Homo sapiens: one gene and its partners. The protein of the gene in region 1 interacts with the protein of each later gene in a biochemical or structural test. Each region holds a gene or a part of one and is shown on either strand. Other genes may lie near its edges.

Region 1 (3,652 bases):
CCGAGTGTGTGCATGTGTGTGTACCGTGCATCTGTGTGCGTGCATTCATGTGTACCCTGCATCTATGTGTGCTGTGTGCATTCATGTGTACTGTGCCTGTGTGTGTGCATTTGTGTGTACCATGCATCTCTGCTGTGTGTGCATTCGTGTGTACTGTGCATCTGTGTGTACTGTGTGCATTCATGTGTACTGTGCATCTGTGTGTGCTGTGTGTGCATTCATGTGTACCCTGCATGTGTGTATGTGCTGTGTGTGCATTCGTGTGTACTGTGCATCTGTGTGTGTGCATTCATGTGTACCCTGCATGTGTGTATGTGCTGTGTGTGCATTCGTGTGTACTGTGCATCTGTGTGTGTGCATTCATGTGTACCCTGCATGTGTGTATGTGCTGTGTGTGCATTCGTGTGTACTGTGCATCTGTGTGTGTGCATTCCTGTGTACCATGCATCTGTGTGTGCTGTGTGTGCATTCCTGTGTACTGTGCATTTGTGCTGTGTGTGCATTCATGTGTACCGTGCATCTGTGTGTGCTTTGCATTCGTGTGTACCCTGCATGTGTGTATGTGCTGTGTGTGCATTCGTGTGTACTGTGCATCTGTGTGCTGTGTGTGCATTCATGTGTACTGTGCATCTGTGTGTGTGCTGTGTGTGCATTCATGTGTACCCTGCATCTGTGTGTGTGCTGTCTGTGCATCCGTGTGTACCATGCATCTGTGTGTGCATTCATGTGTACTGTGCATCTGTGTGTGCTGTGTGTATTCATGTGTACCCTGCATCTATGTGTGTGCTGTCTGTGCATTCGTGTATACTGTGCATCTGTGTGTGCTGTGTGTGCATTCGTGTGTACCCTGCATCTGTGTGTGTGCATTTGTGTGTACTGTGCGCCTGTGTGTGTGCTCTATGCATTCGTGTGTACCGTGCAGCTGTGTGTGTGCATTCATGTGTACCCTGCATATGTGTGGCGTTTGATGCCTCAGTGGTGGGTTCCTTGTGCGTGTTCATGTGTGCGTGTGCTGTGCCCAAGTGTGCACGCATGGCCCAGAGTGGCATCCGAGTGGATAGCAGGAATCTGTTCAGAGAGCCCCTCCCCGTCATGTCATTGGTCTGCTTTACCGATGGCCTGGCCTGCCACGGTGCTGGCGCCCGCCTGGCTGCACTTCCCAGCTCTGGGGTCAGTGTTGCCCCGAGGCTGCTGGCCAGTGCCAGTGCCCTGACGCCCTCCCTCTCCTGCAGGGAAGCCGGAGCTTCCCCGGCAGCCTGGCTCCACGGCTCAGTATGATGCTGGGGCAGGGTCCCCGGAAGCCGAACCCACAGACTCTGACTCACCGCCAAGCAGCAGCGCGGACGCCAGTCGCTTCCTGCACACGCTGGACTGGCAGGGTAGGCAGCGTCCCTGGACCTGGCCACTTGCAGAGGGCAGGCCCCTGGTCTGGAGGTGCCCCTGGGGCAGGGCAAGCGTCTTGGGAGACGGGCCTCCGGCAGAGCTGAGTTGCACCTCAGTGGGGCTGTGCACCCGGCATGTCAGCCTGTTCTTTAATGGCTCACGAGCTAAGAATGATTTCATATCTTTTTAAAGGTGAAAAAAAAAGAACATGCCCACAAAGTCTGAAATAACAACCCTCGCTCTTCATCCCAGTCTGTGGGCCTGGGGAGGCTGGCAGCATGGGCCATGCTGGCGGGGCCCCTGGGTACAGGGGAAGGGCCTGGGCGGAGGGACAGACTGTCACCACCTGGGGATCCCACACCTCTCTTTGCCCACACCCCCAGTGGGCTCCCAGCCCCTCTGAGGCTTTTCAGGAAAACACCTGGGCGCCATCACTGGACCTCACCCCAGACACACCCCAAGGGATGCACCTGCCACTTCCTGTCCCAGCACCCCTGGCCTTCCCATCGGGCTCGTCCCTTCTGCCGCCTGTTCCCAGAGCACCCTTGATTGGTGTTCCTACCCCCTAGTGCTGCCATGTGGCCCCCACTTGACTCAGCCTGAGGCACCGCAGAGGCCCAGGCGGAGAGAGCCACAGGCAGACCCTTGAGGCAGAGGCTGGAGGTGGGTGTGCTGGAGACGCCTCAGGAACAACACCCCACCGCCCGCCCAGAAGCTTCTGCAGCACTCGCCAGGGCCCTGGGCCAAGGAGGCGCTGAGGGGCCGTGCCATGGGGACATTGGTGCTGGCCATGTGGGTTCGCCAAGGCCCTGGGCTGAGGGGACGCGCCGTGGGGACCCTGGTGTTCCTGCAGCACTTGCCAAGGCCCTGGGCCGAGGAGGTGCCGAGGGGCCATGCCATGGGGACCCTGGTGCTGGCCACGTGTGTTCACCAAGGCCCTGGGCCGAGGAGGCCCTGAAGGGACGCGCCGTGGGGACCCTGGTGCTGGCCACGTGTGTTCACCAAGGCCCTGGGCCGAGGAGGCCCTGAAGGGACGCGCCGTGGGGACCCTGGTGCTGGCCGTGTGGTCTCACTAGCCTGTGGTTTTGTTTCCTTTTCGCAGAAGAGAAGGAGGCAGAGACTGGTGCAGAAAATGCCTCTTCCAAGGAGAGCGAGTCTGCCCTGATGGAGGACAGAGACGAGAGTGAGGTGTCAGATGAAGGGGGATCCCCGATCTCCAGCGAGGGCCAGGAACCCAGGGCCGACCCAGAGCCCCCCGGCCTGGCAGCAGGGCTGGTGCAGCAGGACTTGGTTTTTGAGGTGGAGACACCGGCTGTGCTGCCAGAGCCTGTGCCACAGGAAGACGGGGTCGACCTCCTGGGCCTGCACTCCGAGGTGGGCGCAGGGCCAGCTGTACCCCCGCAGGCCTGCAAGGCCCCCTCCAGCAACACCGACCTGCTCAGCTGCCTCCTTGGGCCCCCTGAGGCCGCCTCCCAGGGGCCCCCGGAGGATCTGCTCAGCGAGGACCCGCTGCTCCTGGCAAGCCCGGCCCCTCCCCTGAGCGTGCAGAGCACCCCAAGAGGAGGGCCCCCTGCCGCTGGTACGTGTTTCTGTTCTGAAGGCGAGTGGCTTCACAGTAGATGAGTGATGAGGCTGAGTCATTCTCACTGCATGGGCGTGTTTCGAAGGTGCTTGCAGGAAGGGAACGTGCCCTTCCCCCACCTCCCCCAGGAGCAGCCTCGGGGTCATGTCAGGGTTCTGTGCTGCCCACCTGAGCTCACGGGCCGGGAGCTACTGGCTTCTCCATCTCAGCAGTGTTGCTGTGTCCCTGGGAAAGTCATCCTGAGGCGTGGGGCACGGGGAGCCCCTGGGCTGACTGCCTCAGTGCCCCTGCGAGGGCAGCCGTGGGGTCTGGGCTGCCCAGCTGGAGTGGCCTCTTGGGCAGGCCTGACTCCAGAGCTGGGCTCCTTTGTCTTCAGGCAGCCGGGCTGAGTCCTCCCCATGCCCGCCTGTCCCCACAGCTGACCCCTTTGGCCCGCTTCTGCCGTCTTCAGGCAACAACTCCCAGCCCTGCTCCAATCCTGATCTCTTCGGCGAATTTCTCAATTCGGACTCTGTGACCGTCCCACCATCCTTCCCGTCTGCCCACAGTGCTCCGCCCCCATCCTGCAGCGCCGACTTCCTGCACCTGGGTAAGTGCCTCTCGCCTGGCAGCCAGCTCTCCATGGCCGCCTCCCTCAGGACCGCAGCCTCTGGTGGGAAACAGAGCTGTGGGTCTCAGGCAGTGGTG
Region 2 (3,652 bases), on another chromosome or scaffold:
ACCTTTTCACCCAAAATTTTAGAAAAAGAATTAGGAATTTCAGTTGCTCAGCGTATCCAAAAGCTCAGTTTTGGAGAGGATAACTCCCCTGTGATACTCTCAGGACCACCTCAGGTACATGATGATACTTATTTTAATTAAGTACTGGTTATCACATTATTTGAGATAAAGATTTCTAGTTTTAGTACCATGTTCTTACTATTCTAGTTTGCTTAGTATGTGATCCCTTTCCTATTAGAAGGCTGATTTATTATTAATAGATTGGATTAATAAGTATTCTTAAATGGAATCTTAAGCATTGATATTTTGATATCTTAAGTTAGCTACTATGATTGAAGACAGTGCAACTTAATTTTAATAGCCTATAATGCATATATGAGGCAAAATATTTTAATCTGTTAAAAATCTTGTTTTCAGAGTAGTCCAGTGATTTAGCAAATGGGAAAGGTATAATCACCCAGTTAACATTGACTGATTTTTTTGCTATGGGACAAGCACTTTACTGAGTGCTTTAAATATGTTAGTCCATTTAATCTTCACAACAAAGCATCAAGGTAGGTAGTACTGTTGTTTGTCCATTCCTTCTTACTTCTCTTCTTTCCTTCCTTCCTTCCATTCTCTCTCTCTCAAGATGAGGATACCGTACTTTAGAAAGGTTAAATAACTTGTCCAAGGATAAACTTAGATTCAAGTCCTAGGTGATTAAGAACTCTTGCCATAATCATACAATAAAGCTTGGAGTTGGTACTAGAGCTTTAGAGTTTTCATAACTTTGAATTATTTTATATTAACTGTTTTATATTAACTGTTAATACAGTAATATTTTATATTAACTTTCTAGTGAGTACAATAGCTTGCAGATAAAAAACTGTTAATATAAAAGTGAACTAAATGGCTCAAACTAAGGACAAGAGGTAAGTTAGTGAAGAATGTATTGAATATTTATTTGACTGTACACTGATAATAATTAGATATAGTTATTTGAGTTTGTGCTAATCCTTATTTATGCTTCTTTGATAGTCCTTTAGTGAAGAAGATTCATTTAAAAAATGTTCATCTGAAGTTGAAGCTAAAAATAAGATTGAAGAACTACTTGCTAGTCTTTTAAACAGGTGATTTTCAATCCATTTTGCCAAGTCATCCTATGTATTCATTCTATATACGGTATGTGGAAAGAATATTTGATGTTCCATCTTGGAACTGACAGATTATCTGGAGACTAAACAATGTAAAAATAATTTATCATGGGATTTCTCTGCTTTATAAACTGTTGTAAAGATGGTAATAGGGGGTCTTACCTAAATTGAATTCATTGGTCTTAATTCTGTTAACACTGTGGTTATGCTATGGATCTAAAGCTGCAGATAGTTACCTAAAGGGGTTTTATGGATATTTCTAACATTTCTAGACTTATTCTGGTCTTCAGGTGAGAAGAAGAAGTTTTAATTTTTCCCTGTGGCAATTGCAAAGCCTCTGCCCTCAACCTAATAGTTAGTTGCATTTCATTAAGTTAGTACCATGCTAAATACAAATACATGCGAAATACAAAACCCGTGAAATTAACCATTTATCTGTGCCTCTGCTAATAGTTACTTGCATTTCATTAAGAAGAAAAAAATGCAAAGAGGAATAATACTGTCATAATTCTAAAACTCCTGATACAGGAACAACTATATAAATTTGTGATTGTTGAGGATAGGAAATTATTAAAGTAACAGTGATGGAAGAAGCAGAAGAACCCTTGTATCTCTTTTGCCTCAGACTGTAAAATAAAATGGAGTCGAAGGAAAGAATGGCTAGCTGGCGCTGTGTGTGAGTAGGGTGAGTGACTGCAGGTGTGTGCAGGGTTTCTGATCTGTATGTAAAGAGTATCAACTGGGGTTATAAATATATGAGTAGTACAAGATAAACTGAAAAGGAAATTTAATTTTGTGGTGCTCCTTGTCATTATACATGTATTTCTCAATATTCCATATTCCACAGATGAGTATTATCTGTTTTCGTCCCATTTCTTTGTTTCTCCTCTTCTTGTTAGAAATTTCTCAAATTGTGGTTTCAGGGCTCTAACAGTTTAGAGTAGGTGTGCTTCTCTAATGATTCTAGGAGGACTAACTGTATTTAGAGAAAATGGTTTTTGGTTGGTTCTAAGTCTGAGAAAACTGAAGAAGTGAAATTTCCTCCAACTTTGCTGTCGTGTGCAATGTGGCACTCAAATGTCTTGAGCAGAGCCATGCAGCTCATTGTTGGCTGCATGCAGCTGGGGCTGGCTGTATGACTGGCCTCCCGTGATATGACTCAGGCTGGGCCTGCGAGTATGCTAGTGAAACTGGGTCATTTGCTTCAGCTAAATAGAAGACTACCCTGAAATGCCTAACCTTTGGAGACAGTTCTTCACATAGAAAAACCACAAGAAGTATAAGTTTTACAGGTTCTCTTATTTGAAGAGTCAACCCAGAAGTGAGACCAGGTGCTCTAAACCTGTGACATACAAAACCTGTGAAATTAACCATTTGTCTGTATCTCTGCTTCCCGGCTCCTTTTCTCCCACACCACGGGCCCTTATTTCAGTGACTGAATTATAACACCATCTAAGTGACTTGCAAAAAAAAAAATTACAGGAGTGTGTGTGTGTGTGTGTGTGTGTGTGTGTGTGTATTTGTGTATAATTAGTTTTGTTTTCTCTAGAGTATGTTATGATTAATACTATAGGTATGTAAGAAATGTAAAACCGTATTATTTTTAATCCATCCTCTAGGCACTAGTTTAAGATTGCTTACGATACAGCCTTTTTCTAATGTGTCTTAATTAGCATATCATACTCTTTGAATTGCATAATTAATATAACACGTTTAACTGGAAGATATTTAAACTAGTAACCATTTAAGGTATTTTATCCTAGTTAAGCAGCCATCGAGAAGTTTTGTCACAAAGCAGTAAGAGATAGAAAAAATTATTTACTACAGAACTATTTAATTTTTTATGTTTTTGCGATAGGGTCTTGCTCTGTCACCCAGGCTGGATGGCAGTAGTGCAGTTAGGGCTCACTGCAGCCTCAGCCTCCTGGGCTCAAGCAATCCTCCCACCTCAACCGCCAGAATAGCTGGGAAGGCACCTGCCATCAAGCCTAGCTAATTTTTAAATTTTTGTAGATGAGGTCTTGCTATGTTGCCCAGGCTGGTCTTGAACTCCTGGGCTCAAGTGATCCTCCCACCTCAACTTCCCAAAGTGTTGGGATTACAGGTACGAGGCACCGTGCCTGGCCCAGAACTATTTTTTTCAGATCAGAATCTTCAAGTTGAGTGTGTTTAACAATGTGCAATACTTGCATTTTATGTTTGAGATTTGGTTTTATATGCATTGCCATGTGTATAAAAAGGGAAATGTTATCCTTTAATGACATTTTTTCCAGTACTACTTAAGTGAATTTGTCATATCACTAAAACCTTTGTTTCAACACCAAAACCAAGACATTTGCATGAAACTCTTCTAAAAAATGCATGTACTCATATTGTATATTAATTATATACTAAATATAGTATATGCTCTTTTAAGATATTGCTCTAATAAGCTATCATATAATGGTAATAGTGATTACTCTTTAACAAAAGTAATGTCATTTTGTAAAAAAAAATCTTTTTTTTGGTAATCTCGT
Region 3 (3,652 bases), on another chromosome or scaffold:
GAGCAAAATTTGAATTACCTCATCTTAAAACTTCTACCTTAGAATATAAGCCAAAATAGTAACTAGAATTTTAAAACTGCTCCAGGGGCAGAGTCTTCCACTGGTAAAGTGATTTTCAAAAGGAAACTGAAAATGAAAAGGGGAACAAAATGTGCTGGGTGAGGGTTAGCCTGAAATAATTTTAAGATTTTTTTTTTTTTAGAACTTAAAAACATTGTATGGTAAGACACTTCTGTTTTCAGGAAGAATGTCTAGCGTTTGGATTTTTGAAATGCTGTTGGTTATGTGCGGTAGCTGTTTTGGAGAGGTGTCTGAAAGCAGATGGCAACTGTGCTTCTCAGTTTCTGGATGTGAATGTGTGATCGGAACGTTTATTTTAAAACAGATTCTGTCTTGCTGGCTCTTCCTCTCTCTGTCACAAGTTGATTTTCCAAATCAGGTTTTGCTATTTATAAGGCTTTCATCATCCCCTAAATTTTGCCCAGATTGATCGTTTTTCCTTTCCTCCTTCGACTTTTCAGGCTTCCCAACTTCAAACACAGGTGTTTCCCACACGTGGTTTGTGTCGACCATCCCTTTTGCCTCTGAAACATGTGCAGCTTGCACAAGGCTGCTGGAGCCTGGCTTTTCTAGCTCCACCTTTCCCTGCCTTGACGAGTCCAGTCCACCTGGGCCAGGTGCCTGAGTTCTAGGCTTTTAGGTGAGAAATTCCCACAGCCTTGTCCTGTACCTTACTTCGTGCCCCTACTGCTCACGGCATCTTCTAGAACCTACCCGCTGGTGAGGCTGGCATCTGCCCTCCAGCATTGATATTCTGATCTTATTAATTAGCAGGGAAGTGGGAGACCCGCTGGCCTCCAAGTCTGTGCGCTGGTACTACAGGTAATGACCACCCCAGCCCTGTCGTAGAGAGAGGCTGCAGAAACTTCACTTTGGTTGAATTCACACAGTAACCCCACTAGCAGGCCCGGGCATAAGGGTGGATGTCTATTTTTAACAGGTGAAAACTGAGACACACATACCTTTCAGCTGGGAGTCACACTGCGAACATGTGACACAGGCAGTCCACACCTTTAACGTCCACGCTATGCTTTTGCCTGTACAGATTCTCTTAGGCATTATTTTTATATAACCTTGATTTAAAAAATATATTTTTGGCTGCACTATCACTCCCCATTTCAGAGTTGTCTATCTGAGAGAACACAGACAAGAGGTGCTAATTACCTCGTACTTCATCACATGTAGGATATGCTATAAGAACAAGGATAGGCGCACATGCATTACTTATGGTAGTACCTCATGTCAGGCCTGAGCTAGGCATGGGTCTTACCCTCCCTCTGGTCCTTCAATCACCATACCAGGATGGGCACTTATGCCCATGGGGGGACTCTAAGCTCAGTGGGGGCCCAGCATAGAAGAGCAGCACTTGGTCTCAGTTTATCATAGTCATTAGTTTCAGAGATTAGTCTAACTCCACCCTGGAACTTTTGGGGCCAGATAATTCTTTGTTGCAAATAGCAGTCCTGTACATTGTAGGATGTTTAGCAGCATCATTGACCTCTACCCATTAGAGGCCTGTAGCACTCTCCCCCAGCCAAGTTGTGGCAACCAAAAATGTCTCCAGACATTGCCAAATGTCCCCTGGGAAAGGGGCAGAATTTTTGAGGCTCATGTCTGCTAACCTCCGTCATTTAGCTTTCTGCTAAAGCTCATGCTAACTTGACTTCATAACCAGTAATAATTCCATGTCTTTGGAACTGTTGCCTGACCACCCCCTTGGGATGACGTGCTCACCTCTGGCTTCCAGAAGAACTGGCCCCGGGCAAAAGGAGAGCCTTGTATCGTGACTAACCTTAACTATGTCTGCCCTACCCCCACTGGAGTGTGCCCCTGAGGGCAAGAGCCTCCTTGAGCCATCTTGGTGCCACTGAGCCTCACACAGAGCCTGGCTACCTTGCATGTGACAGTAGGTGTGCGTTGACTGAACAATGATTGAAGCTGTTACCAGTATGTGTTTTCCAATTGTCTGGGGTTTGTTTGAGACTCTTCTCAGGTAGACAATACCTGAGCCCCGCATCAAGATGGGATGGGGGGAGCTGTGCCTTCCCACTGACCACACCTGATGGGTTTGGCTGGATAGATGGACTACAAAAAGGAATGTTGCAGAGGGAAAACTAAATGAACCCATGCAAATATTTGCAGGGGAGGAGGACAGGAATTATAAAGGCTTTCTGTTTTGATTGTTTTTCGCCACCAGAGCAAGAAAGCTTTCTGCTCAGCCATGGCTACGAGTCCACGCCTTAATGCACCCCACAGCCAGCGGCAGTGGCAGTGACAACAGCGGGACCTGCCTTTGAAGATCGGCTGCTGCAAGGGTTGATGGCTGGCATGTCGCAAAGACCCCCCAGCATGTACTGGTGTGTGGGGCCGGAGGAGTCAGCTGTGTGTCCAGAACGTGCCATGGAGACGCTTAACGGTAAGGACAGGGCTGTGCTTATGCCTGCCTGGGTGTGACCTGCCATGCTCATCCTGCAGGGTGTCTAGGCTATGTAAGAACAAGGAGTTCTCAACCAGTGGAAATCAAATGTCCATCATTTGGTGCTCTTTCATCATATAATATATCTTGGGACTCTTAAATTCTAAAAATTGAGGAACAGTGTACAAAATTTATTGTGGACTCACAGATCTTAACAATTGGGACATCACTTCATGCTGGGTTAAAGAACTTTTAAGAAAAAGGATGTAGTTTTGTTTTTTCATTATAAAAATAATACATGTTTATTAAGGAAAAATTGAAAAAAATAATTTAAAAAAAAGGAAGAAGGGAAAGGAATCATCCAGAATCCCGCTATCTCAAACACAAGTACAATGAGCATCTTGGCATGTTCTCTCCTAGTCTCTGCTTCTCTGTGTTTAGGGGACTTTGTTTTAACCTTATTGTACTTACAAGGTGTATGTAATGTTGCATGTTGCTTTTTTCTCTTCACCGTCCATCAGTGACATTTGCTTAGGGCACCACCTGGCTCCCGCAATCAAGTGAAACATCATTTCATTTATTTTATTTTATTTTTTTACGATTTAATAATTGGATCAAAAAATGATTCATAAATTGGGCAGTACTCCGAACCAAAACAAACATCATTATCTGCGGGAGTGCTATGTGCAGTTATTGACCTAATCCTTATTCTCCTGTGGGACATTTGGGTTGCTTCTAGTTGTTTACTCCTACTGAGAGCATTTCCTTCCCATCTCTTCATACCTGGTTTCAAGGTTATTTCTGTAATGCAGGTTTACAGAAGTTGAATGATTGGTCTTGAACATCGTTAAGCTCTTGGCACGTATTTTGCCAGATTTTCCGCTACACTTGCACCACCTTTAAGACCAATAGGATATCATCGTTTACAAATATTTGTCAATCCCTTAGTATGTACCAGGCACTACATGTACAAAGTTCAGAACTTTACGAAATAATGTCATAAAATCCTCACGACAACCTGGCACATGGTACTTTTATTTCCGTTTTATAGCTGAGGAACATGAGGGTAAGAGAAGCCTGGAAACGTGTTCAAGGTCAACAACTCAGAAATCACAGAATTGCCATCTGAACCCTGTCTTAATGCTGCAACACTCATTCTTAAATGCTAGGCCACAC

The links.
Region 2: the proteins of GAK (region 1) and POLI form a complex in vitro, tested with the Homo sapiens proteins (one large-scale study listed by BioGRID).
Region 3: the proteins of GAK (region 1) and LRRK1 form a complex in vitro, tested with the Homo sapiens proteins (2 studies listed by BioGRID and IntAct, with this or other methods).

Annotation. Positions count from the first base shown.
Region 1 is NC_000004.12:866,266-869,917, reverse strand, and holds part of GAK (cyclin-G-associated kinase), read left to right. Parts: intron 1-1,232; coding exon 1,233-1,379; intron 1,380-2,485; coding exon 2,486-2,962; intron 2,963-3,383; coding exon 3,384-3,554; intron 3,555-3,652. UniProt on the Homo sapiens protein: Associates with cyclin G and CDK5. Seems to act as an auxilin homolog that is involved in the uncoating of clathrin-coated vesicles by Hsc70 in non-neuronal cells. Expression oscillates slightly during the cell cycle, peaking at G1.
Region 2 is NC_000018.10:54,282,902-54,286,553, forward strand, and holds part of POLI (DNA polymerase iota isoform a (long)), read left to right. Parts: coding exon 1-114; intron 115-841; exon of another isoform or gene 842-914; intron 915-1,020; coding exon 1,021-1,112; intron 1,113-3,652. UniProt on the Homo sapiens protein: Error-prone DNA polymerase specifically involved in DNA repair. Plays an important role in translesion synthesis, where the normal high-fidelity DNA polymerases cannot proceed and DNA synthesis stalls. Favors Hoogsteen base-pairing in the active site.
Region 3 is NC_000015.10:100,922,254-100,925,905, forward strand, and holds part of LRRK1 (leucine-rich repeat serine/threonine-protein kinase 1), read left to right. Parts: intron 1-2,257; 5' UTR 2,258-2,379; coding exon 2,380-2,476; intron 2,477-3,652.